Homo sapiens: one gene and its partners. The protein of the gene in region 1 interacts with the protein of each later gene in a pairwise test. Each region holds a gene or a part of one and is shown in the gene's direction. Other genes may lie near its edges. The genes, in order: FAM124B, MIPOL1, USP54 and KCTD9.

Evidence for each region.
Region 2: the proteins of FAM124B (region 1) and MIPOL1 interact in binary tests that used the Homo sapiens proteins (3 or more experiments, as listed by UniProt).
Region 3: the proteins of FAM124B (region 1) and USP54 interact in binary tests that used the Homo sapiens proteins (3 or more experiments, as listed by UniProt).
Region 4: the proteins of FAM124B (region 1) and KCTD9 interact in binary tests that used the Homo sapiens proteins (3 or more experiments, as listed by UniProt).

Annotation. Positions count from the first base shown.
Region 1 is NC_000002.12:224,377,790-224,385,513, reverse strand, and holds the end of FAM124B (protein FAM124B), read left to right. Parts: intron 1-5,305; coding exon 5,306-5,941; 3' UTR 5,942-6,816; downstream 6,817-7,724.
Region 2 is NC_000014.9:37,543,804-37,551,617, forward strand, and holds the end of MIPOL1 (mirror-image polydactyly gene 1 protein), read left to right. Parts: intron 1-3,101; coding exon 3,102-3,168; 3' UTR 3,169-7,456; downstream 7,457-7,814.
Region 3 is NC_000010.11:73,497,175-73,504,988, reverse strand, and holds the end of USP54 (ubiquitin carboxyl-terminal hydrolase 54), read left to right. Parts: coding exon 1-139; exon of another isoform or gene 140-184; intron 185-716; exon of another isoform or gene 717-805; intron 806-4,150; coding exon 4,151-4,334; intron 4,335-5,301; exon of another isoform or gene 5,302-5,394; intron 5,395-5,800; coding exon 5,801-6,360; 3' UTR 6,361-7,451; downstream 7,452-7,814.
Region 4 is NC_000008.11:25,440,922-25,448,735, reverse strand, and holds part of KCTD9 (BTB/POZ domain-containing protein KCTD9), read left to right. Parts: intron 1-2,485; coding exon 2,486-2,607; intron 2,608-4,400; coding exon 4,401-4,444; intron 4,445-7,814. UniProt on the Homo sapiens protein: Substrate-specific adapter of a BCR (BTB-CUL3-RBX1) E3 ubiquitin-protein ligase complex, which mediates the ubiquitination of target proteins, leading to their degradation by the proteasome.

The DNA of each region.
Region 1 (7,724 bases):
GCCTAGATGCCCCTGAGATTGCCCTGGGGCAGGTAGAGTGAGAAGAAAAGAGGACCCAGGCCAGCTCTGAAGAATGACAACATTAAATAAACCAACAAGGGAAGAGGCTCCCTCAATGGAAACGGAGAAGGGGTGGAGGGAAAGGTAGGAGAAAATCCAGTGGAATTTATTGGCCAAGAAGCTGAAGAAAAAGACTTCAGGATAAAGAGTACAGACTTCAAGGTCAAATTCTACCAAGAGCTCAAGAAATAATGAATGACAGGAGGGCTGATTGTAGATGACCTTGGCAAGAGCAATTTCATTGGAGTGGTAGGAGGGAATTACCAGCGTGGTGTAAGAAGAGGCAGACAGTAAAGGGTGAGGCAGGCCACATCCAAGGACTTAGATTTTATCTTGTCAGTGGCATGGGTAGAGAAAATAAGGGGAGGTTTGTAGAAAAACATAACTACACAAATTTTATATACAGGTTTGACAGTGAAGGGGAGGACAGAGAAACCTGGAGGGAAAGAGAGGGTGGAAAGAATGTGTTTTTCAAGACACGAGACTTGAACAAGTTTAATTGCTGTTGGAAAGGAATAGGCAGAGAGAGAGAAAGAGAAGGAGAGGGAGAGAGATTAAACATCCAAGATAAGAAAGTGGGAAAAATGAATAATTGATAGGTCAGGGTCACCAAGAAGGCGGGAGGTGATGGGAGTCTTGGCCCAGGGACCGGTCACTTTCACCTAGAGAGAATGGTGAAGCTGCAGGTAAGTTTCGCGGTAGCAGTGAGAGTGTTGCTAACTGGTGACAGCATCTGCTTCCTTGATAATCTGGATGGTGAGACCACCTGATGAGAGAGAGTGGGGGCGATGGTGCTGCTGAAGATTTCAGGACAGTTTTGAAGGTTTGAACAGCTGCTGGGTGAATGGAGAGAGGTGACTAAGGAAGCAGGCAGACTGGCGGGTAGCCTGGGAGAGGCCGGAAACCACGCCATCATGGGGCACCCATTTCACAGACCGATGTGTTTCTGTGGCATCCTGAACACATGTTCAGAAAATGTGGGCAGGTAGATGGATGAAAGGTGGGGAGATTTTGTGGGAGTCTGTGACAGAATGGGAATAGTGAGGGGAGTTGGAGGTATTGGTGAAGAAATGGTTGAAGTGATAGTCTTTGGACTCAAATTGACTCTGAAAGGCAGTGTGGATGGGAGGGGCTGACAGGGAGAAGCTGGGGATTGGGAGTGTTGATGTTGAAGAGCAGATGTGATGGGGAATTGAGTGCCGGAGCCCATGGCCTCAGAATGCCTGGCTTAAATAGAATCTTTCAAAGATGGGACATTTGCAGGTGGAGAAGGCCCAGTGGAGGGGCTGTGGGACTGGGTGACAGAGGGGAGTGGAGGGGTGAGCTGGGCTGGCCCAGGAGGGCGCTTCCTGGCTGCCCTGAGATGTCTCGGCACTGGTTGGGGCTTCAGGACCAATTTCATTATGATCTGACATTGATTTAGATGGCAAGGGGCGATTACTCAGGCTTCTCTCTGTGTTCACAGTTGCTAGAGAATGAAATACAAGCCCCAGAGTCAAAGTTATTGATTTCTTTCTCCAGATTGGATAATCTAATATCAACCCTGAACCATTTCTCAGTATGGAAATATCCATGCCAGTTTCCATTTCTAGAAGAAAAAGATGTCATTGGGTCAATTAAAAAGGTACATTATGATACAAGGGTACAGTGTCAAATGATTCTCCAAGAGGCAATGATGGCAGTTGGCCCTTTGAAGGACTAAGGGAGTTTGTTCTCCAGGGGAAGGGAAACCCCAGCTGACATTTCGGAGATAGTATTTTTTCCTCCTGATTTTGAAAGGATAAGCAAATAGTCTTCATTGGAAAGTGAGAATTTGGGGGTGATTTGAGGTTGGGATAGGGAGAAGGCTTTACTTTTTATTTTATACATTTGTACAATGAAATTATTTTTATGGTGATAAATTACTACTTTTATAGTAAGACTTTTTTAAAAAAACAAACAGATGAAAAGGAAAGAAAGGAAAGGAAGGGCAGGAGGAAGGAAGGAGAGAAGGAAGAAAGGAGGGGAGGGAGGGCGGAGCTGTGGAATTAGAGCAAAGGGAAATGTAGAGAGAGATAGCAAAATGAAATTAGGCAAAGAATTTTTCAGAAATATGGAGGAGGAGGTCGGGTGTATGTGATAAGAAACAGACTCACAACGACCGCAAGTTAACTGACTACTCGAAGCCTAGCTTTTCTGGGTCCATGGCAGTAGTTCCGAAACTTCGCTGCACATTAGAATTACTGGGGGAGATTTATCAGCTCTGACAGCCAGGTGTACTCTGACCTGATGAAATCAGGAGGTCATGGGCTGGGAGCAGGCATCATTGTTTTTTAATGATCCCAGGATGTTCCCTTGTGCAGCAAAGTTTGGGAACAGAAATTTCTCCTATGGGTTTGCATAAGGACAGGTCCTTCGGTGCAGTGGGCATCCCTTCAACAGTGTCGCCCCTAGAGAGAGTATCTGATGCTGGTGGAAGCTCTCTTCAACACACTCTGGGGCACTGCACTCAGCTGTGGTTCAGTGCAAGCACATCTGCGATAGGGGTTTCAGGTGTGTGTGGCTCTAATGAACTGGCTTGGCTCAGGGGTAGAATTTAGATATTCTAGAATAGTGGTTTTCAAGCTGGTTCTGTGAAGCCCTGGGGAACTAGAGAGGGGGTCCCGTAGGCAGAGGCTACCCTCTGTACGTCAACCAGGGCTGCGCTAATTAGATTGCTTCATATTTTGGGCTTCCAGGTAAGAAATTGTTTGGAAAAAAACTTCTTAAGATAGAGAGATGGCTCACTCCTGTCATCCAGCATTTTGGGAGGCCAAGGTGGATGGATCACCTTAGGTTGGGAGTTTGAGACCAGCCTGACCAATATGGAGAAACCTCATCTCTACTAAAAATACAAAATTAGCTGGGCGTGGTGGTGCATGCCTGTAACCCTAGCTACTAGGGAGGCTGAGGCAGGAGAATCACTTGAACCTGGCAGGTGGAGGTTGCAGTGAGCTGAGATTGCGCCATTGCACTCCAGATTGGGCAACAAGAGCAAAACTCCATCTCAAAAAAAAAAAAAAAAAAAAAGACAGGGAATCATTGATCTAGAATAGGGCTTGGTCAACTGTGGCCTGAGAACTAAAAATAGTTTTCTATTTTTATATGGTTGGAAAAAAATTCATGACACATAAAAAATATGAGATTCAAATTTCAGTGTTCATACATAGAGTTTTACTGAACACAGCCATTCATTTATATATTGTCTATGGCTGCTCTGCAGCAGAGTTGGATAGTTGGGATAAAGACCATATGGCCGGCAAACCCTCAGATATTTACTGTCTGGCTCCTTGCCGAAAATATTTGCCAACTTCTATTCTAAAAGAATCAGTGGAAGTCCTTGTTTTTTTGTGTGTTTGTTTTTGCAGCTTGGTAATATGCACCTCACCATTTCTATCAGAAAATTGAGATGTACTCTGCGTCATCTATACAAACAAATATGCTCTGTGTGAGTGTGTGTGTGTGTGTATGAGAGAGAGAATTTACTGATTTCTAGACCTGTTTTCTCACTGTCCTCATTTCTGCCTTCTTGCCTTGTAAGATAAATATGTATCATTATTTTTTCTCCCTTGAAATAGACCTTATTTTTTACAGCAGTGGTAGGTTCACAGCAGAATTAAGCAGAAAGAACAGAGAGTTCCCATATACAACCTTCCCCCCGAAAAGAGCCTCCTTTCCTGTCAACATCCTTTATCAGAGTGGTACATGTGTTACAACTGATCAACCTACAACGACACATCACCATCACCCAAAGCCCATAGGGTACATTAGGGTTCATTCTTGGTGTCGTACATTCTGTGGGTTTGGACAAATGTATAAGGATGTGCATCCACCATTACAGTATCATGCAGAGTAGTTTTCACTGCCCTAAAGTCCTCCTGCTCCACTTAGTCATCCCTCCCTCCCCCCAACCCCTGGCAACCACTGATTTTTTTACTGTCTTCATAGTTTTGGTTTTTCCAAAGTGTCATATAGTTGGCATCATATAGTCTCTCTCTGTCACCCAGGCTGGAGTGCAGTGGTGCAGTCATAACTCAATTTAACCTCGAACTCCTGGGCTCGAGGGATCCTCCCTCTTCTGCCTTCTGAATAGCTGGGACTATATGTATGGACCACACGTCTGGCTGATGTTTTTATTTTTTGTAAAGATGGGGTCTTGCTAGTTGCCCAAGCTGGTCTTGAACTCCTGGCCTCAAGTAGTCCTCCCACCTCAGCTTCCCAAAGGGCTAGGATTACAGGCATGAGCCCAGATAGGCTTCTTTCAGTTAGTAGTATTTATTGCAAGTTCTTCCGTATCATTCTTCTTGATATTTGATTAAGGGCTGGGCCAGGTAGGGATGGATCCTGGATACAAATTTCCAAGGGCTGTTATCAAAATGGAAAAAATTGCCTTTTTCCAGAAATCTTCTTGGGAAGAGTGTTGTGCATGGAATAGGATGCAAGGCTCCCAAGGGTGGAAGTCTTAAAGGGGGGTCAGTGAACTCCATCCTGTGGAGGGAGAGTGCAGTCAACTGCAGGGTGAGGGTTTTGCTGAGTGGTGTCTGTAAGTTTGTAACCAGAGTGGAATTGCTAAGGATGAAAACACCTAAACTTCCATATAAGCCATGCCCCCTTTTTGTTTTCTCATGCAATACCAGGCCTCTAATCTAAATAAATGGTGCCCCAAGAATTTAAAGAATATTGCTGCCAAATTATTAGCCGTCTGGAGTGGTCACATGTCTTAGAATGGCCCAAGATATGTATTTTTATTAGCATGATCTAAAAGAAGGATCACCAGCTTTGGAAGATTGAATTCTTACTTCAATCCTTATCTTAACTTTAACCACATGGTTTGGTGGCTTTCTAAATTTCTTTTTTTACATGGTTGCTAATAAATATATCATTTACAACATCCAGTGAGGTCACTGAATGACATCTGTGAATGTCTGCATTGTTTGAACAACTTGCTCTACCAGAAGTGTGGTGTTGTCAATTGGCCATTTGATTCCCAAAGTCTTACCCTTGTCAAAAACTTAATTTAGGGAGTCCCAAAGAGAGGTATTTGGGGCTGGGTCTGATTAGATATCTCATAATTATATTGTACTTATCACTTCTATTCAATTCAACCAAATTTACTGAAAGTCTGCTATGGGCATGGCATGGCAGAGGGTGAATAAGGCATAGTCAGCTCTTGGCACTTAGTTAATGGAAATTATGTTTCATATGTTCCTCCTTTCCTTTCCTGTAGGTTCAGCTGAATCCAGAACTTGGTGTTAAGAATGGCATCTTGGGAGCTGGCATGCTTCCCCTGGGCTCCAGGCTGACTTCTGTCTCTGCAAAGAGGACCTCAGAACCCAGGAGCCAGAGGAACCAGGGCAAGAGGTCCCAGGGGCATTCTCTGGAGCTTCCTGAGCCCAGTGGGAGCCCCACATCAGACAGGTGTGCTGGCACTTCGTGGAAAAGCCCTGGCCGGTCATTCCAGGTCAGCAGCCCAGCTATGGGTGCCCACCTGCACCTGTCTTCTCATCACCTTGAATCCGGGGCCAGAATGAAGGTCCTCAACCGGGAAAACAGCTTTCAGAAGCTTGAGGCCGAGACGAATGTTGACACCGGCTTGACCATCATAAATTCTGAACCCAGGCAGACTTATTTTGGCGGATTTCCAAGGGATTTACAGACCAGCCAGCCACCATTCTGCTTGCCAGCCTCTTCCTTGGGGGTGGCTACCTCCAAAAACAACAGTGTCCTTAAGGAAAGAGTCTCTCCTTTGCCACTTGCTGGCCAAAGGGACCTTGGTACCAGGAAGACAATTTCAGAATGTCTCCTTCATCTGCAAGTTCAGGGTGAAGAAAAAGAAGAAGATGAAGAAGAATTCTTTATATAGCATAAAATAAATGTGGTTTTCTAAAACACAAGATCAGATAAAATGTTCTAGAAATGGAGTACTGACCCAGAATCAGCCTGTTAGTTGTTCATCTGAGGGGGGCTGAATGCTCCCCATGCACAATCTGTATTGATTTTATTTCAAATGTTCAAAGTCTAAAGGTGCTGGGAATGATTGTTTATTTGCCGTCACAGTCATAAGAGAACACAGCCAACACACAGGGAAAAAAACCGAATGCTTTTGTTCCGTGGAGATGCACTAACCCAGCTGGATGTGTTGAATCCAGCACCTATCAGGATAATTGCATTGTATGCAAATGAATCGGTATGTTATACAACACTAATTAGTGTCTGTAATTTGGTTTTAATTTTTACTTAGGTTGCATAGCTCATCCCCCTGGACAATATGGACTGCTATTTACTCTTGAATGCTTTTTAATTTTCATGTGACCTCTTTTGGTAACTAGGCCTTGTTCACATACCCTCCTTGTGATTTTGTCTTTAAAGTTGTTTGTATCTGGAATGAGTGAAAATGCAAAGTGTTTTGAAAATTATAAACAGTTAATTTTGTTTTCCTGTTTAATGAGCCAAAATACTGGAAGCCAGAAAATCAGGTTGAACATGAATGCTAGGCTCTAGGGCTTTCCTGCTCATCTGCTTCTCATTTGTTTCTGCACTATGTCAAAGAGGACAGTGGTTCTTGTTACAAACCAAAGAGGAACATTGAGCACAGTGGGAAAATTGGACTGGTTGATCTGGTCACTGGAGCAGGACTTGGGTTCTTCTGGCCAGATTTTGACTCCCAGATTCCTTTACAAAACGCACTCATTCATTCATTTATATATGTTCATTCAATAAACATTTTTTGAATACCTACATTTGAATAAGACATTGTGTATATGGTACATATACATTCTGGGGCCATGAAACCCAAAAAGTGTTTATGGTTTCACCACTCTGATAAATTCATTCTACCAACTTTTAAAAAGATACTGAATTCCAAATATATTCCTCCAAAAACTTTTTCCACAGTTGAGGCCCACACTGGCCACATAATGGTGTAATAAGCATTTGCAACCTGCAGATGGAGACTGGGCATATTATGAATTGCAATTATAATTGCAATGGACAAATTCTCGTTGCCCATATGCTGAATTTTTTGGATATGTCTGTACACACATGTTTAAAAATCCCGAGGCCTGTGTTTCAGTTCATTTATAAGGTTATTCAATTCCACGAACTTCACTCTCAGAACAGATGTTACATAAGAGTGTAAATGTTGATTTAGCTGGATCTTTTGGAGACTTGGAGACTTACTACACCTAACTGGAGACAGAGATGAGTTCAGTCCTAAAGTCAAATCTTGCAAAAGTGAGTCTAGGCTGATTTTGGGTGCTCTTCTCCGCAAAAGGGATAGAAACGGAGGAGAGTTGTAAATGGACAAAGACAAGACTCCTCAATTGATATTTTTTGTCCTTAAAACATCAACATATTCTCATTCCCATTTTGTCTCTCTCTCCCCTAGACTACAATTTGATTTTAGAAAACGGGATGAAGAGCTTAACTTTGGTATAGCTTTCTATAATAAGAGTTAAAACAAAAAAGGAAGTTGAACTACTGAACTTTGAATAAGCACAGCAGGAAGAAGTTTTGAAATTTCCTTCCCACTTTTTTTTTGATGTTATCTAAATTTTCTTAATATAATACATGGGTAAGAATAAAAGTACCTGAAAATTATAAAGAATATTGAGAAATGTGAATCAGGCACCTTACAAAATTGACTT
Region 2 (7,814 bases), on another chromosome or scaffold:
ATGAGTTAAAACCCTTTCATTGTGTTCCCCTGTCTACATCAGTTGTTTCATCACAAAGTTTTCACAGGTTCAAATTGAAGTAAATAAAAAAATACAATATACCAAGTTTTTCTTAAATATTTTAGCTGAAAGGTTGAGTGAGTGAATGGATGGCAACATTAATCAAGATAAGAAATACTGAAACATGCATAAGAAGTAAAATAGTTTTGTTTTAAATATACTGAGTATCATAGGCCAATTGTATAAGCAAGAGGAGATTTCTTGAAGGCAGTTGGATAAGTGAGTCTAAAACTCAGAAGAGAATTTTGAGAAAGGGGTCTAGATTTGGAAGTCATGAGCGTTTAAGTGTCATCAAGGGAGCAAAATGAAAAGAAAAGATGATAAAATACATCAACATTAAAAATACCAACAAAACAACAACCATAGTGATAAAAGAAACAAAAATCATATTTAAAGTCTTCTCATCCTTCTGACTGAGAGAGGGCAAGATCTTTAATACTAATGGCAAACCCTAGGTGCAGCATTTTTAGTGACTTTGTCTCCTCCTCCTCACAACCTTGTATAAGGGTTTACTTGTCTGTTCTTCAGTTTCTTCATATTTAAAATGGAGAAATCCTAATCCTAGCTCTAGCCCTTTTCCTGTTTCATGAAGCTGTTGAGAAGATATCACTGAGTAATATTTAAAGCAGCTGGAGCCTATTTTAGTGAGCTACATAATTTTTTAAGGACATTATTGATTTGGACAGTAAGAATAGCCTGCAGGCAAATCCTGCAAGGTGCTTCAACAGACACACACGTCTACCTTCCTGTTGGCACAGCCCATGTTTGGCAGGTGTATTCCATTCCTTACAGGAAGGAATAGGTGCTTCATTGTGTTACAGAAGTCAGTAAGCTTTCACAAAACTAAGTAATTGACATCTTTCTCATTTCTGAGATCAGGTTTTCATAAATCATTCGACCTGGATAAATTGAGATTGTAGTTGATGTGGTAATTGTTGAAATACAATGAGGACATTGCAAAACATGATATTTAACTATTTCCTCCTAATCTCTTACCTTAACAACATATAAGAGTTCTAAATGGAAAGATGTCCTAATGTAGAAAAAGGAAACAAAAGTAAGATGAGCCTGTCTGTAAAGGAGAAGCCAGAAGAAGCACAACACAGATTCATCTCAGTAATTTGGGATTCCACTGATTCTGAATTTGTAGTAACAATAATAATAACTAGACAACATAGAGCTGACTTTTATATTGTGAAAAAGGTTTTATCACTAGTTAGTAGTATAAATTATATTATGGAGAAGGGATACATTTAGCCAGTTTGCAAGTAATATTTTCTGGCTTTTAACAATATATGCAAAGCAATGCTACTAATATCTTATAATGATTTCTGCTGGGAGCTATTTAATGGTTATTTCAAGTTACTATCAGATTTTAACAATAAACTTAAAATTTCATAGTGTAGTTCTATAATTCATACTCACATTTTTCTTTCCCCTCATTGCACAACTCAAGTTAATTAAACATTGCCTTAAAGGATTCATGTAGTGCTATGAGTCATAATATTCAGAGTGTGTAAGTTAGCACTAGTTTTTAACCACTAGGGAAGGTTCAAGTATTGCAGACTAATCTGAGAATACAGTGAATTTTCTAATGACTCTTCTAGTTCAGGTATTTGTACCACTAGACTGTTTTAGTGGATATACAACATTTATGTATAGTTTGCATTTTAGAAAAGTTTGTAGTAATAAACTTAGACAAGATTTGCCTTTTTACTCTAAGATCATTACTGTGTTCTTAAAGCAAAGTTTTTTGATGCACTGAATAATTTTGTTTTATTTTCCTGTTTTTTGTTAACAGAATTCTTGATAGATACAAAATCATCCAATAAACTTCAGCTAGTTTTCAGCATTATATGCAGTTGATTTGTCCATTCCTCAGTGGAACTTCCAAATCATCTAAACCAGCTTTGTATGACACTAAGAATACCCTCATTCCTTCAGTGTCTAGCTCTGTGCTGTGTTTATTTGCAGAGGACCCTCATGCATGGATCCATATAAATGAGGCAAACTGTGAAGCAGACTAGACTGTGCCGCTTACCGTAAAGTCTTTGAGAGAGGAAGATTGTGTATATGAAAACTGCTAGGCATGATATTTACTTATAAGGAAGATTTCTATGTGTATAACATCAAGCAAGATTTTTGGTTGAGGTTTTATGCTTTCAGTAAAGAAAATAAAAGAAGAAAACCAATTAATGGTCTGATTCTATCATCTTTTGTCAAGCATCTCTTACTGATCTACATGAATGTGACCTCCCGCTCATAGAGTAGTCTAAGAACACTGCAGAATGGACTTGTGAACTTTCGACTCTCTTTTCAATTTAATTGACTAGTTTTTAGTCAACTAAAAAAATCATTTTCTTTGACTAAAATGTCTATGTAGGTAATTTCTAGTGCATCTATGCTACTCAGAAATAGAAACGTGTTTTTTTAATTAGAACAAAAAGTCTGGTTTTATTAGTATCAAATCATTGTGTATTTTTAAATTATTTCCATGCTACTGTAACTTGAAATGTTTCCCACCTAACCACTATTTCTGGCTTTATGTTTATCAGCTGATTCTATGAAAAGATGGGAATTTAGTACATAGAAGTTACACAGTATACCAACCAATGAATCACTTATCTAAGTAACAGGTGAAACATTGCTGATATTTGTGTTTTGAAATATGTGCTTTTCTTAGGTAAAATCAGTTTATTCTACATTTAATATGTGATCCTGTCATTGCATAGTAAATGATTCATTCACAACCTTAATGCAAGTAGCTAAATGTATTGAAATAAGTGTCCTATAAATTTTGTGTGGCATCTAATGCTGACATAATTCAAGGATCTGGGTTAAAGTTTGTGTCGTTGCTGGGTTTTTTAACCTCAAATACTTGGCACTCTGTAGCAGTGTCTCTCACAGTAATGCTTTGTTTCTTAACATGACCGTGAGGACTGCTTGGTCACAGGCAAATACTGTCCTTTATCAGCCAGGACATTCTTAACAATAATTGCCCTTTTTTTCCCCTTCTCACCCCCATCCCAACCCCAACTTAGGTTGGAAAGGCTGGTGGATGTACTGAGGAAGAAGGTTGGAACCGGGACCATGAGGACAGTGATCTGATTGAAAAAAAACGACAGTCTGGGGAAGCGATCACATCTGGTGACCAGGCTGCTTCATTCAACACTGTGTAAACACCAAAGCCTTAACTTAGCAAACAGTTGTTAGAAGTGGGACACTCCAACCACATTCCAAGCTGAGATAAAATCAAATCACAAATGTTTAACCACTTTGCTGCTGACTTGAGTTATTTATCCAAATATATTAACTATAGACTTTTACCAATGGGTAGCTATAAGGTTACAGCTTATTTTGTAACTATTTTATATCTCAATATCTTTAATATAAATCTTTTTACTGAGAGATCATTATAGAAACATGTTAAAGTTGGTTAGGATCATATCTTCACATATGGCCCTTTCTGAATCAAAGTGCGGCAAAGTAAATATTGTCTAAGCTTTAATCCACTGTGTTAGGTCAAAACTTCAAATACATGCATTTTTCAATATAGGGTATATTTCTTAACTGATGAGAGAGGCTTAGACATGAGTGTGTAGTCTTCCTTCAATGCGTGTATGTAATCTTTGTTAGTATAAAAGATATTAAATATAGGTGCCAAGAATTAAATGTATAATTTGTTTAATAAGAGATGGATATATTAAAATTACATTCATCAAGGCATGATTTTTGTTTCACTACAAATAATGCAAACTGTTTTCAATAAAAAGAGGAGACTGTTAATGTGTACTTATAAATTCACATTGTCAGTATTTTTTAATATTGGGTCTGAATAATTATCTGAATTCTACTTAAGCTATAAGTCTCTGTCATTTTTGCTTGAAAATTAGCATGCCTCTGTCTTAAAAGAGACCATCAAACCTATTAAGTATTCTTATTGTTTATCTTTTTTTAATTGCCATTTGATTTTTATTGTGGAGGAGGAGGATCTAATATATAATATTCAATACAATTGTAATGTAGAAATATAAGAATTTAGAAAAAAGTAAACTTGCCATTTGGTTAAGGTTACCTGCTTTTTATTTTATTCCAGAAATAAGATAGTTACAGCATAGCAGTCATATGAAGTTATGAATAGAACTGAGATTTTTATGTAATTAGTTATAGGCAAAATACTTTCATATTTTTAGATTAGACAGACGAAAGACCAAGAGGAAATGACTGTGCCTGGAACAGGATGAAATAGACAAGTAGAGATTTAATTAGCAAAAATTTTGTAGGGAAGTAAAATTTTTTCTAAGTCTATACGTTTTTAATTCATCTTTAAGATTGAGCTAAATTATCTACCATTGCCTATTTACAGGATAAGTACATTCAGGACAATTTATTGTACCATTCTTTCATATACCATAGCAGATTATCCATTTCAATTTTTTTTTACTCCACAGGAAAATGTAAGCTACTTTGTCATAGATCACAAAAGAATCATAATGCTAACAAACTCTATTTCTTCCTTATTAAATCTGTATCCATTAAAGTAACTTTTTTAACTATGAGAATTAGAAAATAAGGGACAACAGGGGTTAAAAATAAACTGATTTAATTTGCTCTATAGTCCTAAAGAGAATTATATCCTCTCATAGACCAATGACTCTATAATAGAGAAATATGTAATGATTTGGTCATGCATGGAGTCTTGTCTCTGGGCTCTATTTGAAACGTGTAACAGCTCCCTATGTGAAGAAACATTATCTTTAAAGTCATCTGGGAGGTGCAGGTAAGTAAAGAGAAACAATTTTTGTCACAAAGTAGTCCATTCCTGATCTCACTTAAAATAAATCACAAGTAAATTTGAATTTTCGGTTTAATGTTGAAAGCAGATGAACTTTTCTTGAGTTATTTTGTCTTTTAGAATACACAAAATATAGTATAAAGACATTTCACAATTTCCAAACAAATCTTTCTACGCTTAAATGATCAAATTAGAAAAACCAATTCCTATAATTAATATGCAGAACTTTTATAGAATATGATATTATAAAGTTAAATTTGCAAAATAATTCTAACATCCACTATTGTTCAGTATAGGTAATCTCCCAAAAATATCACATCCTCTTGAAAATGAATTGTCTACAAAATTTCAAATGCAAAGTATTACAGCCAAATATTATCTTAATTAATTTCTTACACTTAAAAGTGTCCATCAACAGTGTGTCAGATGGTCTTTATATATTTTTTCTGTATGAAGGAATAGCCTTGCCTACTGAAGATAGGTTCTCTATGTATTCAACAATAATGCAACTTTAGAAGTATTCCACACTGCTGAGAAATGTTGCTTTGAGTTTGCTTTACACATCATCAACTCTAAATCCTATAGTAACATGAGAATTCACTTCTTCTTGTAAAAATAAGTAATTTACAGGAAAGGCAAAATGCTAATACTAACATTTGTAGCACTTGATGATTTACAAAGTCCTTTTACATCTGTTTTTTCATTTGATCCTATCGACAATCATAATAATAATAAATTATATATATAACCCATATAATAACGATGGTGATGATAATTTTAGTATTACTGTCATTATAATTATTATTATATTCATTCTACAGATGAGGAAACAGACTCAGTAAGCCTTGGAATTTGCCAAGGACTGGCTAGGACCTAGAACTAAGATCTTATAACCACACTCCATGCAACTATGAGTCTCTAAATCTCTCTGTAAGAAAAAAATTTCAAAGTAAAGATTTTACTCTTGCAATTTCTGTTGTGATAGTACCATCTCTTTCACATACTACATACAAATTCCCTAATAATCAAAAGATTGTACACATTTTTTTCAATGAAGTACAATAATGTGAACTGCATGTGTAAACAGCATCACATTATTACCACCTCTCTATGGTATTATAGTGGCAGTATGCTTTGCCTCAGCCTTCACTAATTAGGAATATTGTGACAATTCATTGCTAATAAAACATAACATGAGTCTCTTTGTACTGTTTTTAATTTGGCCTGATGCTAAAACCTATCAGCTTAGTTTTTTAACATGGTAGTCTAAACTTCAAGGCTTGCTCTATCTCCTAGAGCAATTTAGAGCTAAAACCAGTAATAAGCAAAGTTATTGGTTATAAGCAAGGTATAAGCAGTTAAAGCAAAGTTATTAATTATTAATATATGAGAATTTAAAATTTTATAAATAAGTTAGAAATTATTAATGTATTTTAAATATGGAGTAAAATATTTTGCTAATTTTTTTCAATGATAAAGTTGATCCTTTGTATATTTCCTTATTCAAATAAATTCAGTCATCTTCTTATCAGGTTGCTTATTTATATAATTTGTTTATTTTATTAAAAATCTAGAATATTAAAGATTTATACTTTTAATATTGAATATAGTTTCGTAGAAAAACATTTTATATGTACTATTCTTAAAGATCACAATTATTTTTAAACTTTCTATTTTCAAATACTTGTGATTAATAAGGCATTCTATGATGAAATAGCCATGGCTTATATATTTTTGTCTTTTCACATATGATGTGTTTGGAACCCAAATTTTTTACTGATTTTATTGTGTTGTTGGTAACTAGTATTTACAGCTAACCTATCTATTCATATTTTACATATATATATATATATATACATGCACACACACCGATACATTTACCTTTTAAAAAAATGATTTATAAGTGAACTGTTAGGCTCCAGTGATTTCAGTGTTTTGTTCATGTTTTATTGGAAATGCACGTGGTTTCTTAGGCTTTTAAACAAATACATGGAATGGTTGAAAGATTTATTTTGCTCGTGCTTAGCTAAATATGTCATCTCTAGAAAAGATGTGGTTTGTTTTGGCACTGTTTTAAAAACTCAAATATTTTAAACATTTGTTAAGTTGGAGCTTGCACATTTAAACCAGCAGCATACGTTCCAGAAGAGCATCTCAAGTTACCAAATTTTTTGTAATCCTTTTACTAGAAAAATCTTTTTTGAAGAGTTTTTCTTGTGCTTGCTTCGGCAGCATATATACTGAAATTAGAAAAAGAAAACTTTTCTTTTTTATTATATATTTTAGTGTAAGTTAAGTTAAACTTCTAAAAGTTGAATTATTTAATGTAGGACTTCATAAATAGTATTTGACAATGATAAATGTGTATTTTTGAGAATCATTAAAATGTATACAATGATATTCCTTTGCAGAAGTCTTAATATGCATAATTTTTAATCTAATTGTCTTCTAAATATAGTTTTGGTGTATGCTGGTATTTTAGAAGCCACCAATTTCTGGACTATCTGATTATTAACAAAGATGTATTTTAATGCACAAACTCAAATGTTTAAAATATATATTTACTTTGTACTCAAATAAAATCCCCTATTGCAAATCCTATACATATTTCAATGCAATTCTTATACATCGATCTTAATCAAATTTATAAATGTACAATCCTGAAGACAGTGTACTAGATATGCACTATAAAATATATTGCAGTAAGGAAACAGATTAAGTTCACTGTCAAACTGTCTGACTTCCTTAACAAATTTAATAAAGATAAATGTCAATATGAACAAATTTGTTAGGTACCTTAGGAATCTTTCAAAACTATTTAGATATAAAATAAAATTATAGTAATAAAATATTGAAGAGAAATATCATTTTTAGTGAATATGGTTAGAAAGAACATAAGAAGTGAGATCAAATTATTTTAATTAAAAAAATAGGCCAGGTGCGATGGCTCACGCCTGTA
Region 3 (7,814 bases), on another chromosome or scaffold:
TACACCTTGCCGAGGCCTCAGCAGGGAGTGTGGGGAGGATGAGCAGTACAGTGCAGAGAATTTACGTCGCATCTCACGCAGTCTCAGTGGCACCGTTGTCTCAGAGAGGGAGGAAGCTCCGGTTTCTTCCCACAGTTTTGTAAGTAGAATCAGGGTCCATCTATTCAGAGCACCCTCCTCCTTGCTAAGCAAAAATACAGTGCAGGTGAAGAAGCAGGGAGAAAGTGAAGGTTGTAATGTGAGGAAAGGCCCTGTGTACTCAGCAAAAATAAGGACACGCAGTCATTATTTTATTTACAAACATTCAGCTGGAGCCCAGAGGAATGTCCATTCCATGTAGCAGTTCTGAAAGGCCGTGCGTGTTGTAGGGTTTCCTGGGGTGAGAAGAGTCATAAAGCCTTGAGAGGAATCTGAGAAGCAAAGGCTGCTGATTGGGTCAGAACCCACTGCACTAATCAAAGAAAGAAGGAAAGAAATGGGATGGAGTATTGGTTTGCTTTTTCCTCTCACCCCCAGTATGTGATTGAATAGAATTCAGTGTGTTTTCAATCTAAAGTGATGCATGTGTATCAGCAAGAAGAGGAAAAAAGCCTTCTTGAGAATTTTCATATGGTACTAGTGCAGTAATGTGTAAGTAGAAGAGGCAGGAAAGCCCAAGCCATTAGAGATCAACAAACTTAAATAATATCAGTGGCTAGGTTTGTAGGTAATCATACCTTTGGAGAATTTCACTTCCTTGCCCAAGTTGAGTGTTCATCACAGTAGAGGTCAGGGTACAAAGTACCAGTGCATTGAAGGTTGTCCACTAGGTCAGTTCAGGAAAAATGTAAAAACAGATTTTAAATACATGGTACAAAAATAAAAAGGTATAAAAGCATATATGGTGAAAACCAAGTCTGTCTTCTACCAGCCCTTCAGATTCAGTTTCCCTCCTAAGAGGTACTCATTTTTCCAATTTTTAAAAATCAGCCGAGGCCAGGCGTGGTGGCTCATGCCTGTAATCCCAGCACTTTGGGAGGCCAAGGATGGTGGATCACCTGAGGTCAGGAGTTCGAGACCAGCCTGGCCAACATGGCAAAAATATAAAAATTAGCCAGGCATGGTGGGGGGTGCTTGTAGTCCTAGCTACTCGGGAGGCTGAGGCAGGAGAATCGCTTGAATCCGGGTGGCAGAGGTTGCAGTGAGCTGAGATTGAGCCACTGCACTCCAGCCTGGGTAACAGAGCAAGACTCTGTCTCAAAAACAAAACAAAACAAACAAAAAAACCCAGCCGAATTTATAGTAAGTTTCATTCAATTTATCGTTCATAAATTCCTAAGCAATTCTGATCAGGCTGCCATTCTTTTTTGGAAAAGGTGGACTCTCCTGCCTAGCATTTGTTCTCATGTACTTTCAATTCATTTAATGGCAAATTGTTCTTTTCCTAGGAGAGTTGGCTTCCTTTCTTCTGACTTCTGTATCATTCATTGATTCATTCTTTTAAATAAATGCTTATTGATTCTGTACAAGATTCCTAGCACAAAAATAAACAAATAAATAAGTGCTTATTGAGTGTGTTCTAGGTATTGTGCTAGGTGCTGGAGCTACAATGGTGAGTTAGATATAGTCCCTGCTTTTATGGAGCTTACAGTCTACAGTGAGGGACGGATAAATAAACAAACAGTTATAATGTGTTAAGGATTTGATCCTATGGGAACATAATAGAAGGGATATTTAAATCAGGCTTGAGGTATCATGGAAGGCTTCCTGGAGGAAGCAAAAAGAATATAGCAAGTAAAAGGGACCTGAGCAAATATTAACTGAATTAAAAGAAGCTTATTTAGTATGGCAGGATTAGAAAGTCTGGCAAGGGGAGATGATGGAGAGTGTTGACAAGAGAGGATACAAAGAATATTATGGACCACAGACAGCCCTGTATGTCACAGTAAGTAGTTTGGAAGGATAGAGATAAGTCGATGTATTTGAGACCCAGTTAGGAAGTAAACATCAGTGGGAGTTGGTGCCTGCCTGGATGTTGGGAGTGGGGATAAAGGATGATACTCAAGTTTTATGGGTAGATAATGATATATTTGAGGGAAGATATGCATTCAGTTTTACATATATTAAGCTTGAGTGGAGGTATCTGGCAGGCTTTTGGAATGAGATATATAAGCTGCAAATTGAAATCTGGGAATCATAGCCATTGAAAAAGAGGAAAAGACTTGCAGAAAGAGAAGAGGAGCCAGGACATATCCCTAAAGAGCATCAGATTTAAGGTGGTTCTTCTGAAGAACCCTAAAAGGAGACTGAGAAAAAAAGATTAGAGAGACTGAAGGGAAACCAAGGATGTGTGGTACCATAGTCACCAAGGGGAGAGTGTTTCAAGAAGAAAGGAATAGCCGGGCGCGGTGGCTCACGCCTGTAATCCCAGCACTTTGGGAGGCTGAGGCGGGCAGATCATAAGGTCAGGAGATTGAGACCATCCTGGCTAACACAGTGAAATGCCGTCTCTACTAAAAATACAAAAAAATTAGCTGGGCGCGGTGGCGGGTGCCTGTAGTCCCAGCTACTTGGGAAGCTGAGGCAGGAGAATGGTGTGAACCCAGGAGGCAGAGCTTGCAGTGAGTGAGCCGAGATTGCGCCACTGCACTCCAGCCTGGGTGACAGAGCGAGACTCCGTCTCAAAAAAAAAAAGAAGAAAGGAATAATTAGCTGTGTCACATGCTGAGAGGACTGGCACCTGGTCCTTAGGCAGTATGATAAATGCTTACTTTGTGCCATTTTGTAGTAGGTGCTGTGAGCATACACTGATGAAACAACACAAATTCTGCCCTTGAGTAGCTTGCAGTCTCGTAAAGGAAATTAGACATACTGGCATATAGATTATTTTATTTAATGTATTATTACTAAGTGCCCACATTGTTCTAGGCACTGTTCAAGGTGCTGCGGATACAGAAGTAAAAAGAAATAGGGGAGAAGACAATAAACAAATAAATGACATAATGCCAGACAATGATAAGTATGATAAAGAATAATAAGGCAAGAGAATAAAGAGTAAAGAGGTAATAGTGGTTTTTTTGAGGGCTATTCCTGATAGTAGGGTAGTGAGGGAAATCAGCTCTAAGGAAGTAACTTTTGATTAGAGATCTCAGTGATATGAAAGTATGAGCCATCAGAAGAATATTCTTGGTAACAGAAACAGGAAGTATAAAGACTCTGAGGTAGCAATGAGCTTGGTGTGTTTGAGGAATATTAAAGTTAGAGTGTAAAAGCTCCAGGAATGATAGGAAATAAAGTGAGGAGCAGCAGGGCCATATCACACAGGACCTTGTAGGCCACAGTAAGGAGGAGTGGATGGGAGATAGGAAAAGCAGATTGAAGGCTGTTGCAGTAGTCCAGGTGAATTTAAATATAAAACCCATAGGTAGAAATGATAGTCCTTGGCAAGTAATGGAATTGTGGATGGGAAGTGGGAAATCAAGGTCATTGCCAATGTTTGAATATGGGTGATTTAGGAAAATGAGGTGCCAGGAGGAGGAGTTTGGAAGGATTTTGGTTCAATTTTGGATATGTTAGTGTTTCAGATGTTAAAGGGGAATATTTCTGGGTATTTATCATAAAAGTAGATAACTAATAGGGAGTAGAGCAGGACATTAGCATCAGTAAATACAAACTTGACAGGCAAAAGAGGAAGCTGTGGAATGTGTAGCAGTGACAGGAGAGAAGATGGGGTAGAGTTCTTGATTCTACATTTAAACATATATAGTTTCATTCCCAGTACTTAGAATAAGTGAAGGATTTTTTTTTCTCATTCTCTCAGGCTTTCTGAATTTCTCATATTTCGTTTTTATTTTTAAATTTCTATCTCAATCTCTCTAATTCTACTGTTAGCATTAAGGAGTTTGCTAAAGACCTGAATGATAGGGTTGGGAAGGTGAGGGATATGAGGAAGACTGGTTAAGGGATAAGGATCTGAAGTTTGCAGTTTCTTAGAGGGCTAGCAGGGAGAGCAACTGAGTAAATTGGGTCCTGTTCCAGAACAAGGCATGTAGGCATGTTTGTGCTCTGGTTCCCTCCATTTCCCTTTGCTTGCCTCACTGTGTTTACCCAACTACATCCTGCTTTGTGTTAATCCTCATCTCTATGTTTTTTTGTCTTGTCTCATTATAAGGATTCATCAAACGTGAGGAAGCCTTTGGAAACCGGGCACCGTTGTTCCAGCTCCTCTTCCCTCCCTGTCATCCATGACCCTTCTGTGTTTCTCCTCGGTCCCCAACTCTACCTTCCCCAACCACAGTTCCTGTCCCCAGATGTCCTGATGCCCACCATGGCAGGGGAGCCCAATAGACTCCCAGGTAACTCCCCCAAATCTAATATTATATGCCAGAATTTGGTACCTTTTCAGGGGCCTCCAAGGGTCAAATCAGTATACCTATGGGGAGGGGGGTATCCCAAGGTGGAGTGGTGTGAAGATATGAATTACTGCTTCAAAGTCGTGCATTTATCTAGATAAATATTAAATCATTTGTTGGGCACCATGATTCTTAGACCAAGGGTTTAGACCAGCACCCCTAGAGTCTGTCTACTTACGAAAATGACCTGCTTCAGTCATGACAGAATAAGCTTTTAACTGACAAAGGGGAGTTAATACCCAGTCTTTGGGACATCCCCAGAACAGAAATGGTCATCTCTCCTTCTATCCTCTGAGCTAGTTTTCTCCCCTTCTATCCTCTGAGTCTCAGCTGAGGGATGGTCTAGGAAGATAAGGAATGAGTGGGAGAATTGGAAAGACCCTTTACATGGAGTACCCACACCATGTGTACAGACCCAGACAATTGTGGGGAAGGTGGGCAATATCATTTTGGCTTTCTTTGACCTTCCGAGTGAGATGTTCTCTTTTTTCCCCTCATGCACTGGATGTACAAGCTTGAGGCAGTGGTTCTCAATGGATAAAGGGGATGTACCACCGGTATCTAGTGGGTAGAGGCCAGGGATGTCCTCAACAGCACAGCCATTATTGTCACTTGCTCAGTTGTTGTTGTAAACCCTCAGAGTCAGCTGAACTATTTTAGGCCAAACATACTGTTTTTGCAAAGTATTTTTCATTAATAAATCACACAATGCACAGGGCAGTCTCTCCCCAACCCCAACAAAGAATTATCAGCCCAAGATACCAAGAGTGCCAAAGTTGAATAAATGTATAAGAAAAGGCATTCCACATTAGATCTCAGAGATCAAACAAAGGCAGCTTAACTGAAGTGAAGGTAACATTTTAAGAAAAGTTGGAGAAACAAAAAAAAAGCAAGGCACAGCGTCTCACACCTGTAATTCCAGCACTTTGGGAGGCCAAGATGGGAGGATGACTTGAGTCCAGCAGTTCGAGACCAGCCTGGGCAACACAGTGAGATCCCGTCTCTATTTTTTTTAAAAAGAAAAGCTGCGTGAGGTTTTGGTATGGTGGCTCTAGGAGTATAGTCATCACAAAGGGAGTATACGTTTGCCATATATTGCTATATATTAGGGAGCCCTTCTTTTGTAGGTGTGTGTATAGTGGATGAGAGATTATAGTGGAGGGAGGTAGAGGTATGGCAACATCCATGAGACTGTTTCATTTGCCCAGGTTGGAGGTATGAGATTTGATTTTGATGTATATTAAGAATTTTAAGAAATGGAATCAAAAGCACAGCTTGATTCATTCTTTCCCTTGTATGTATGCTCTTGGAGGAGTAGGGAATTGGGCTACACAGCTAGGCATGGCTCTCTGGGAAGGAGAATGGTTTTCTGAAGATGCTCAGTCTTTGGGTTTCTTTTCTTTCCCCAGGAACTTCAAGGAGTGTCCAGCAGTTTCTGGCTATGTGTGACAGGGGTGAAACTTCCCAAGGGGCCAAGTACACAGGAAGGACTTTGAACTACCAGAGCCTCCCCCATCGCTCCAGAACAGACAACTCCTGGGCACCCTGGTCAGAGACCAACCAGCATATTGGGACCAGATTCCTGACTACTCCAGGGTGCAATCCTCAACTAACCTACACTGCCACACTACCAGAAAGAAGCAAGGGCCTTCAGGTTCCTCACACTCAGTCCTGGAGTGATCTTTTCCATTCACCCTCCCACCCTCCCATTGTTCATCCTGTGTACCCACCATCTAGCAGTCTTCATGTACCCCTGAGGTCAGCTTGGAATTCAGATCCTGTTCCAGGGTCCCGAACCCCTGGTCCTCGAAGAGTAGATATGCCCCCAGATGATGACTGGAGGCAAAGCAGTTATGCCTCCCACTCTGGACACAGGAGAACAGTGGGAGAGGGGTTTCTGTTTGTTCTATCAGATGCTCCCAGAAGAGAGCAGATCAGGGCTAGAGTCCTGCAGCACAGTCAATGGTAAAGGTTATTCCTTTCCTTTCCTGGAGCTACACCTTTCTTTGTAAAACTGTACTGTGGGCCGGGCGCGGTGGCTCACACCTGTAATCCCAGCACTTTGGGAGGCTGAGGCGGGTGGATCACGAGGTCAGGAGATTGAGACCATCCTGGCCAACATGGTGAAACCCCGTCTCTACCAAAATACAAAAAATTAGCCAGGCGTGACGGTGCGTGCCTGTAGTCCCAACTACTCGGAAGGCTGAGGCAGGAGAATTGCTTGAACCCGGGAGGCAGAGGTTGCAGTGAGCCGAGATCGCACCACTGCACTCCAGCTTGGCAATAGAGTGAGACTCCATCTCAAAAAACAAAACAAAACAACAACAAAATAAACTACTGTGGCAGCGTTGGTACCCTGCATCACTGCCATGGTTGTGCTATTCTCATCTCAACATAGAATTGGTGGGTTCTCCTAAGGGTGTCAGGAACCTCTAAAAAGATGTGATTCTTTGGGAGGGGATATTTGAAATTCCAACTTCCATTCCCCCTAGCAAAAGGAAGCAGCTGCTGTTTAAGGGTTTTATCTGAGCCACTTTAAAGATGAATCCATGGTATTACTCTGGATACTAGCCATTCCTTAGGATTTTAAGGTCACATTTTATTCCTGGATGCTTTATGTCCCCACCTCCACCTGAGCCCTCATCCTCTGTTCCCTACTATACTCCCAACTTCTACTCTTTGTTTTATCCACCTATCCCTATTACCTGACCCTTTGTCTTCCCTGTCTCCCATCCTTGGGGGGACATGTAGCCCTGTGGTCATGGTTCTGATGACATCATCAGGGCAGCCCCCCTGCCCAGGTATTATGGCCTGTCAGCATTCCCTGTGCCCTCCAAACCTTAGGCCTAGAATGCGGAGCTGCCAACATAACATTCACCCTTTTGAACAGATGGAGTCAGGCACACTAACACAGCCTTCTGTCCTCAATAACACAGCCATTATTGCCACTTGCTCAGTCGTCAATGTAAACCCTCAGAGTCAGCTGAACTATTTTAGGCCAAACATACTGTTTTTGTAAAGTATTTTTCATTAATAAATCTATAAGACAGTTCTATTTAATTCCTTGTCATTCTTCCCTTTGTATGCTCTTGCTTTCTTTGTATTGGGGCTGGAAGTCTGGATAAATATATGAAGTGGCTTTTGACTGAGTGGAAGTGAGGAGCCAGAGACGAGTTGAAGGATATACAATCAAGGTGGGAATCAATGGGTCCTAAAATAGGGTGCCTTTCCTTTCTAGTATTGCTGCTAGGATGTTTCCCATCCCTTTCCTGACAGAGCATTCAGTACTCAGTACATTATACACTTCCTTCCTCCCCTCCTTAGGAAGATTTTCTGGGGATTCAAGCTCTTCTTACAGACTCACTCCTGATCAATGTACTCCAGGTGCCTTCCCTCTATCTTATAAGTTTGTGACGTGCCTCC
Region 4 (7,814 bases), on another chromosome or scaffold:
ACTGTGTTGCCCAAGCTGGTCTCGAACTCCTGAGCTTAAGCAATCCATCCGCCTCAGCCTCCCATAGTGCAGATTTTACAGGCGTGAGCCACCGCGCCCAGCCCTACTCAGGCTTTAATTATTTATGGCAAGCCTGCTGTGTGTAGGACACTGTGCCAAGTGCTTTGCAGTATTTTTTTTATTGTGATAAAAGATGGAACAAAATTTATTATTTTAACCATTTTTTAAATGTGTAATTCATTGACATTGTTTACATTCACAATGTGTGTAACCATCACCACGGTTTATTTCCAGTACTTGGTCATCATCCCAAACAGAAATTGTAACCATTAAGAAATAAGTCTCCATTCCCATCTATGCCTTGGTAACCTTTATTCTGCTTTCTTTCTCTATGAATTTGCCTGTGTTGGGTACTTTCATGTGAGTGGTATCATAGAATATTTATCCTTTTGTGACTGGCTTATTTCATTTAGCATACTGTCAAAAAGGTTCATCCATGTTGCAGCATGTGTCAGAATTCATGTCTCTTCTCTTCTCGCTTTGCTTTCCTTTCCTTTTTCTTTATTCTTTCCTTTCCTTTCCTTTTCTCTTTTCTTTTTCCTTTCCTTTTTTCTTTTCCGTCCCATCATGTCCAGGCTGGAGTGCAGTGGCGTGATCTTGGCTCACTGCAGCCTTGAATTGGCAGGCTCAAGTGATCCTCCCATCTCGGCCTCCCAAGCAGCTAAGACTACAGGCATGTGCCTCCATGCTTGGCTACTTTTTGTATTTTTTTGTAGAGACCATGTTTCACCATGTTGGCCAGGCAGGTCTCGAACTCCTGGGCTCAAGCGATCCACCTGCCACAGCCTCTCAAAGTGCTGGGATTACAGGCATGAGCCATTGTACCTGGCCTCATTGTTTCTTATTGCTGAATAATATTCCATTGTATATATATACCATATTTTATTTATGCAATTACCTGCTTATGGACACTTGGGTTGTACATTATTTTTTATAATGCACTTGGTTCCGCTTAAATTTTTCTTGCCTTCAACACTTTCCAAAATGCCCCAGCACTCTTCTGGCTTTCATCCTTCTGATCCAAGAGAAAAAAGTTAGAATCTGAGTACTCTGCTTTTGAAAAACTGCACACTCGTATGTTATCGAGCAGCTTTTTCCATGTCCTCCATTTACTGTATTTATTTAACTAGAAACTGTCCACTCTATTCCAGTCACTGGTGGACAGAGGACCAGCCTTAGTGCTCACTTCATATGGCATCTTGACATAATAAATCTTGGGACGTCCATGAGCTAGCTGACTGTGCTTCGTGTTTAGCTCTTCACCTACTTATTTTTCTTTTTTTAGCGGGGAGACAGAGCCTTGCTTGGTCATAAAGGCTGGAGTGCAGTGGTGCAACCTTGGCTCACTGCAACCTCTGCCTCCTGGGTTCAAGCAATTCTCATGCTTCAGCCTCTGGAGTAGCTACAGGCATACACCACCACACCTGGCTGATTTTTGTATTTTAGTAGGGATGGGGTTTCTCCATGTTGGTCTGGCTGGTCTCAAACTCCAGGCCTTAAGTGCTCTGCCCGTCTCAGCCTCACAAAGTGCTGGGATTACAGGCATGAACCACTGCGCCCGACCCTTACCTAGTTTTTATTCCTAACTTTCAGAGGTCATAACTGATAATGGTGCAACTGCACAACTCAGTCGCTGGGAACCCATAGTTACAGTTAGGACCAGGGCACAAAATTCACTTACATGTAGAAATTCTCAGCACCCTGCTTAGACAGTTGCATGTATCTTGCACATATATCAGACTGCTTGATTCACAGCAGGACACATCAATTCATTGTCACCCAGCTGTTTGCTCTGTTCTTAAATGTTAGATGCTAAAATCTGGCTTAGTTAGTGAAGAATTAAATAAATGAGGTGAGAAGTTATCTTTTCTGTGGTAGTTGATGTCGTTAATGATATAATAAACAGTACCAGCACACTCCTGTTCTAAGGATGAACCATTCAAATAAATAAATAATAAAAGGACAACATAATAGGGACTTACTAGGTCTCAGGCACTTTGCTAAGCTCTTATGCATGAACTCATTTCATAATACCTTCTGAAGTAGGTGCTACTATTTTCTTCATTTCTAGTTAAAGCAACAGAAGCATCAGTAGGTTGACTCAAGTTGACAGCTAGAAAATGTCAGACTCTAGATCGAAGTGTAGGTCTATCTTACTTCACAACTGGAGCGCTATTTAACACACCTTAGGATTGTAGATTGTTTTGGTCAGAGATGATTTCTTATGTTCTAGTTGAGGAGTCGGCAATATTAGGCACCAAGTGAATAAATGAGTCATGGAAGAAAAGGGGGCACTGTTAAGAACCTTTTGAAGTCTCCTTTTATATGATAATCTTTTTAGCACTGTTCTAGTGTGGTAGTTTATAACTTATGGGGGATAACATGTATTAAAGAAATTGTTCATATTATTCTGGTGTGTTTACAGGTGGTTGCTGTATATGGAACTTTATCTGATTTGCTTTCTGTGGCCAGCAGTAAACTCGGCATAAAAGCCACCAGTGTGTATAATGGGAAAGGTGGACTGATTGATGATATTGCTTTGATCAGGTAACCTTCACCTTTTTATAAGCTGTCAACAGTGTGCCTCAACTTCTTGGTGCTATGCTGTTTCCCTTAAGCAGTAATTTAATCACTGTTAAGAGTACAGGATTTTGGCAAGTGTTTACCTAGAATTTGCTCTTTGGAATTTAAATCATTTGGGCTTAAGGTGAATTGATCAGCTAGAAAACCCTTAGTACATTTCAGTATACTGATAGTCTTTCTGCATAGTTCATATATAGCTATGAGGAATTTCTTCTTTGTGGTACTAGAGAAGGATCTAGTAAGACGTGCAGTTTTTAACATTAAAAATCTAATTCATCTCTTCACTTTTATATGCGCCTGCTTGTTAATCATTTCCTAAGAATGCTTTGCATTTTATAATCATTACAAAGGCCAGATTTTGTAAAAACTTTATAAATATGATAGAATTCTAAGTAGTGATATCACCAGTGATCCACCATAATTATAGGCTTATGTTTGTACCTTAAATATCTCAGGCAGATTTATCTCTTTAAAACAAGTGTGTAGTTCACCTTACTTCATCTTCATGAGGTCAGAGAATTTTGGAGCAGGAAGATGCTTAACAAAGAAGATGGTAAAGGGAACACAAATTAAGTATTGACTATGCCACTTATGTTATCATTGCTTTGCCTGAGTTATACCATTTAATTGGCAAAACATGAGTTTTTTTTATCAGTGATGTGAAGATAATGATGCTTTAACCTATAATGATATACAAAGTCTCTGTATAAATCTAGATCAAAATGACCTTTCAGTATAATATACTGCTTTGCAGTTAATCAGTTCTAGACCCTTCATTTTACAGATGAGGAAACGAATTACCTGTGAAGCTGAGGACTCACTCAGGTCATACAGCTAGTTGGGTTTTGTTAATGAAAACAGATTTTTATACTAATCTGAAAAAGTAAACTGGCATGGTGAACAAGTAGGAAATACTATACACTACATTTTAAATCCAAATAAATTAGGATAACTTCTTAGTTTTTCAATATGTATCTCCCAGCTTCTTTCAGTTTCTAAGGAAAACTGAGTCACATTGTTGGATGATGATCCTCATCAACCTAACTTTCTTCTTAACAAACACGAACTCTGCTTCTTAGAAAAATTTAACGTGTCCTGTGATGTCCTATAGGAAATAAAAACGTCTACAATGGAAGGTTATAATTGAAGCCTTCTGAGCTATAAGATATCTGTTTATTCATTTTTGGTTCACAATACAGTATCTGGGGTAATGGGTTGAGGAAGAGGATGTGCACTGATTGTCCAGAACTCTGGGTTATGTGCAGCCATTTACATTTGGGTGTATGGTGGATGTGTAGTGGGTAAACACTGACAGTAGAGTTACTTCCAGCTATATTTTTCCTAGATTTAATATGACAGTTTATTTCATCTCCAAAGCACACAACAGCTGATGATTTAGGGGTAAAAAATGTAAAGAAAAAAAGAATAGTTGGCTGTGACTTTAATCTATCCTTTCAGCATAATTATTCATTCTCAATTGATAAGAAAGCTGAACTCAACATCGTTTGTGTAAGGAGATTTTTTTCCCCACATTTCAAAAGTACTTTCATGTGCAAGATCTTATTTTTGAATTTAAATTCAAAGACAGTTAAGTTCAAGGGGTTAAACAAAGCATTGGAAACTTAGCTTCTTTGCAGTCTAGATTGATAGCAAAACCTATTGTCTATATAATTGTAAGGAATAGTTCCTATAAGCAACAGATAATTAATGTGATTTTTAGATTTTGATGGTAGCTTTTTAAATTTTGATTTCCCCAGGGATGATGATGTTTTGTTTGTTTGTGAAGGAGAGCCATTTATTGGTAAGTGACTTTAAAAGCCAATTTTATCTGCCAAAAAAAAAAAAAAAAGATGGAATGACAATTATTTTAAATGGGGCTATTAAGCTTAAACATTAAAAATGATCTTATGGCTGTATTCAAATCTTCACACTTTTTGATTCTGCATTGGGTATGTTAAAGTAAATTTTTTACTATATGATCGTAGTTTATTATAGATGCATGTTTTACATGCCGTTAAAATGCTCTGGAGGTATACATATTCATTAACTGTAACATAGTAAGGTAGTTTTGATCTTAGAAACAATTGTTTTGTTTGAAAATTTTTTCTTTGATGGTGAATGTCAAAATTTTTCTACGTGTTGTATTACATATTTGTGAGTAAATATTGCTTGCGTAAGTAGTGTTTGACAGTATTTCACAGTGATCAGATCAGCCAAAAAATGACTTGGTATCAACCACACACACAGGTGTGCACACACACTACCCTTTGATTTGGAAGAAAGCTTATAGTTGTATATCTCAAAAGAAAAGGCCGAAAGGAAGATAAAGTATTTGATTTATTTAGATCCATACAGTCCACACTCTGAATATTTAAGTATTTTTTAAAGCATCATACTAATTGCATTTGGTGAGTGGAAGTAGTTCTCACGATTGTTGCACAGGCAATTGTCAACTTAGAAGTAAGTGCATACTCTTGTCTGTCTGTCTCTACCTTAAAACTGTAAGCAAGAACTTCTCATCTTCTTTTATCCATTGGCCTAACAGTGACTGGCAGGCAATGGTCACTTAATTGGTCCACTGCATACAAACACAATAAAAAATGATCAATTAAGGTTTTTTTATTGTTATTAACTCATGGATTTAAAAATATTTGGTATATTTTCATCCTCTGCATTTATTGATGTTCAGATGGTCTTAATTTTTTGCCACTGGAAATCTCTTCGGGTCTTTTTAACAAACCTTGTTGGATTTTATGGCTTTCTTATTATCTGGAATAACTGGTGTTCATCTTAAAACCTTTTCCTGTCTCAGACCTGGATCAACATTTTTCCAACAAGCCTTGATTTTTTTAGTGGGAAGTGTCATTCCAAGACAAATCTGGGTGCTAGGGAGGCTCTTCGCTATTGGGTTCATTATTGTTGCTATGCCTTTTGGTGGACAGAATTGAAAATATATAGGTAGAGATAAAATTTGTATATAATGTATGTTATAGGATATAAAGTTTATATGTCATATATAACAAAATATGGATAGATGAAATAACTCATGGCTTCATAGTAGTACTTAAAGTTTATATTAAGGATTATAAGGTTTTTACTTATCCTCTTCTGTCTTACATCTGTGTCTCCTTTTTCTATATCAATAGTCCTGACTTTCAGGGACATGGAGACTAATAGAATTATAATGTCACATAATTACTCATTTACTTTACCCCATACAGAACACATCTAAAAATGTCAGAGTAACAAACTCAATACTTTCAGTACCAATATAATTACTAAAAACAGTTAAATGTTTTTCATATGCTAAATCCCTTCTCCCCTTACTTAAAAATAATTGTATTGTTTCTGAATTGTCGGAACATATAGCCATTGTATATTATAGTGTCTCCCTTTATACACTCATTTAGTTTTACTTCTTCAAGCGTACACTTACCTCCAGTCCTTTTGTTATGTTTCCAGTGTTTATCTGAAACTTGTTCTCTAGTAGATTTCTCTCCAAGATACTATGAGAACAATATTCGGTGACATCTTCCAATGGCAAGATGCCATTGCCATCCACCATCTTTATATAATTTTGGTATAAAATTATATGTCAAAGCTTATTAAATTATAAACTTTAGTATGTGTAACTTGTTCTGTGTTAATTATACCTCAGTGAAGCTATTGAAAAATCCTTGGTTCACATTATTTTTCTTTGAATATCTTAAATATGTTACTGCATTTTATTCTGGCCTGAGGTGTTGGTCTCAAAAAATCTGATCTTTCTTATGTGATTATTTTTCATAGATCACCCAAAGGATATTTCTCTTTCTTTAAAGTACAGTAATTTTAGTAGAATATTTATTGGTGTTCTGAGTTGTTCTGGATTGGTTTTCTCAGTATGTGATGGATCCTTTCAATATATAGTTTCAAGTGTATGTATTTTAAAATTTCAGTACAGTTCTCTTGAAGTTGACATTTTTATTTTGTTCACTTTGATTTGATTTCCTTCTTTCAGGACTCTATTGTATGTAGGGTGGATCTTTTACACTTGTCTTTTATGTTTGAAACTTTCTTTTCCTTTCTTTTTATTTTATTTATTTTTTTGAGACAGGGCCTCACTTCATCACTCAGGCTGTAGTGCAGTGGTATGATCTTGGCTCACTACAGCTTCAACCTCCTGGGTTCAAGTGATCCTCCTGCCTCAGCCCCCAACCAGGAGCTGGGACTGCAGATGTGTGCTACCATGCCCGGATAATTTTTTTGTATTTTTTGTAGAGATGGGGTTTTGGGGTTTTGCCCTGTTGCCCAGGCTGGTCTCGAACTCCTGAGCTCAAGCAATCCACCCGCCTCGGCCTCCCAGAGGATTATAGGCATGAGCCACCACGTCTGACCATTTCTTTTTAATTTTTCAAGCTATTCTCTTTTTTACCTTTTCTTTCCCTTAAGTCATTGTCTATTGTGTTTAATCACTCTTGTATTTCTTTTGCTTTAGTCTTTAAAAATCATTTTTCTTTTATTTCTAATTCTCTTGGGAGTTCTTGCTACTCATTTCTGAATTTTTAAATCCTGGTTTATATTGTTGTTTTATACCTTGTATAAACTTCTTTTAGCATGTTTTGGAATATTAGATTATAATTTTGATCTATTTTGTGGGTATTTCTGGCATGTTTTCATTATCTATAAGGACAATTATTATTTTAACACTTTTGTATTAACATTTGATCAGTCTTTTTGTATTGCTCATTTTTATATGAAATTAGTTTTTCTTAACTTGAAAAGAGGGCTGACAGGACAGTTTTTCCAATTTCATGGCTCTAGAGTTCCCTTTTCTGTTGTTTTTGTGAAGTGTTTAAAATACACAGAACTCATTTTCTGATATATTCTGGTCTATTAAACCTCTTAACTTTCATCTGCAGTCCTTTTTTTTTTTTGTCTCTGTTGTCTTTGTTGCATTCAACTTGGATTATTTTCCCAGCATCTTATCAGTATGGGGCTTTGTCCATGGAAGGGAGTTTTGGCCATTTGGTTTTAAGAGTTTATTTTCAGCCCTATAAGATCTTACTGCAAACTACTTGCATCACCCACTTTTGGGATGATCTCAATCTGTTGTTTTCAGCTAGACTTATTAAGCAATGAAGTCAGTATCTATGGATGGCTTTAACATTCATGGGTTCATCATATACCCT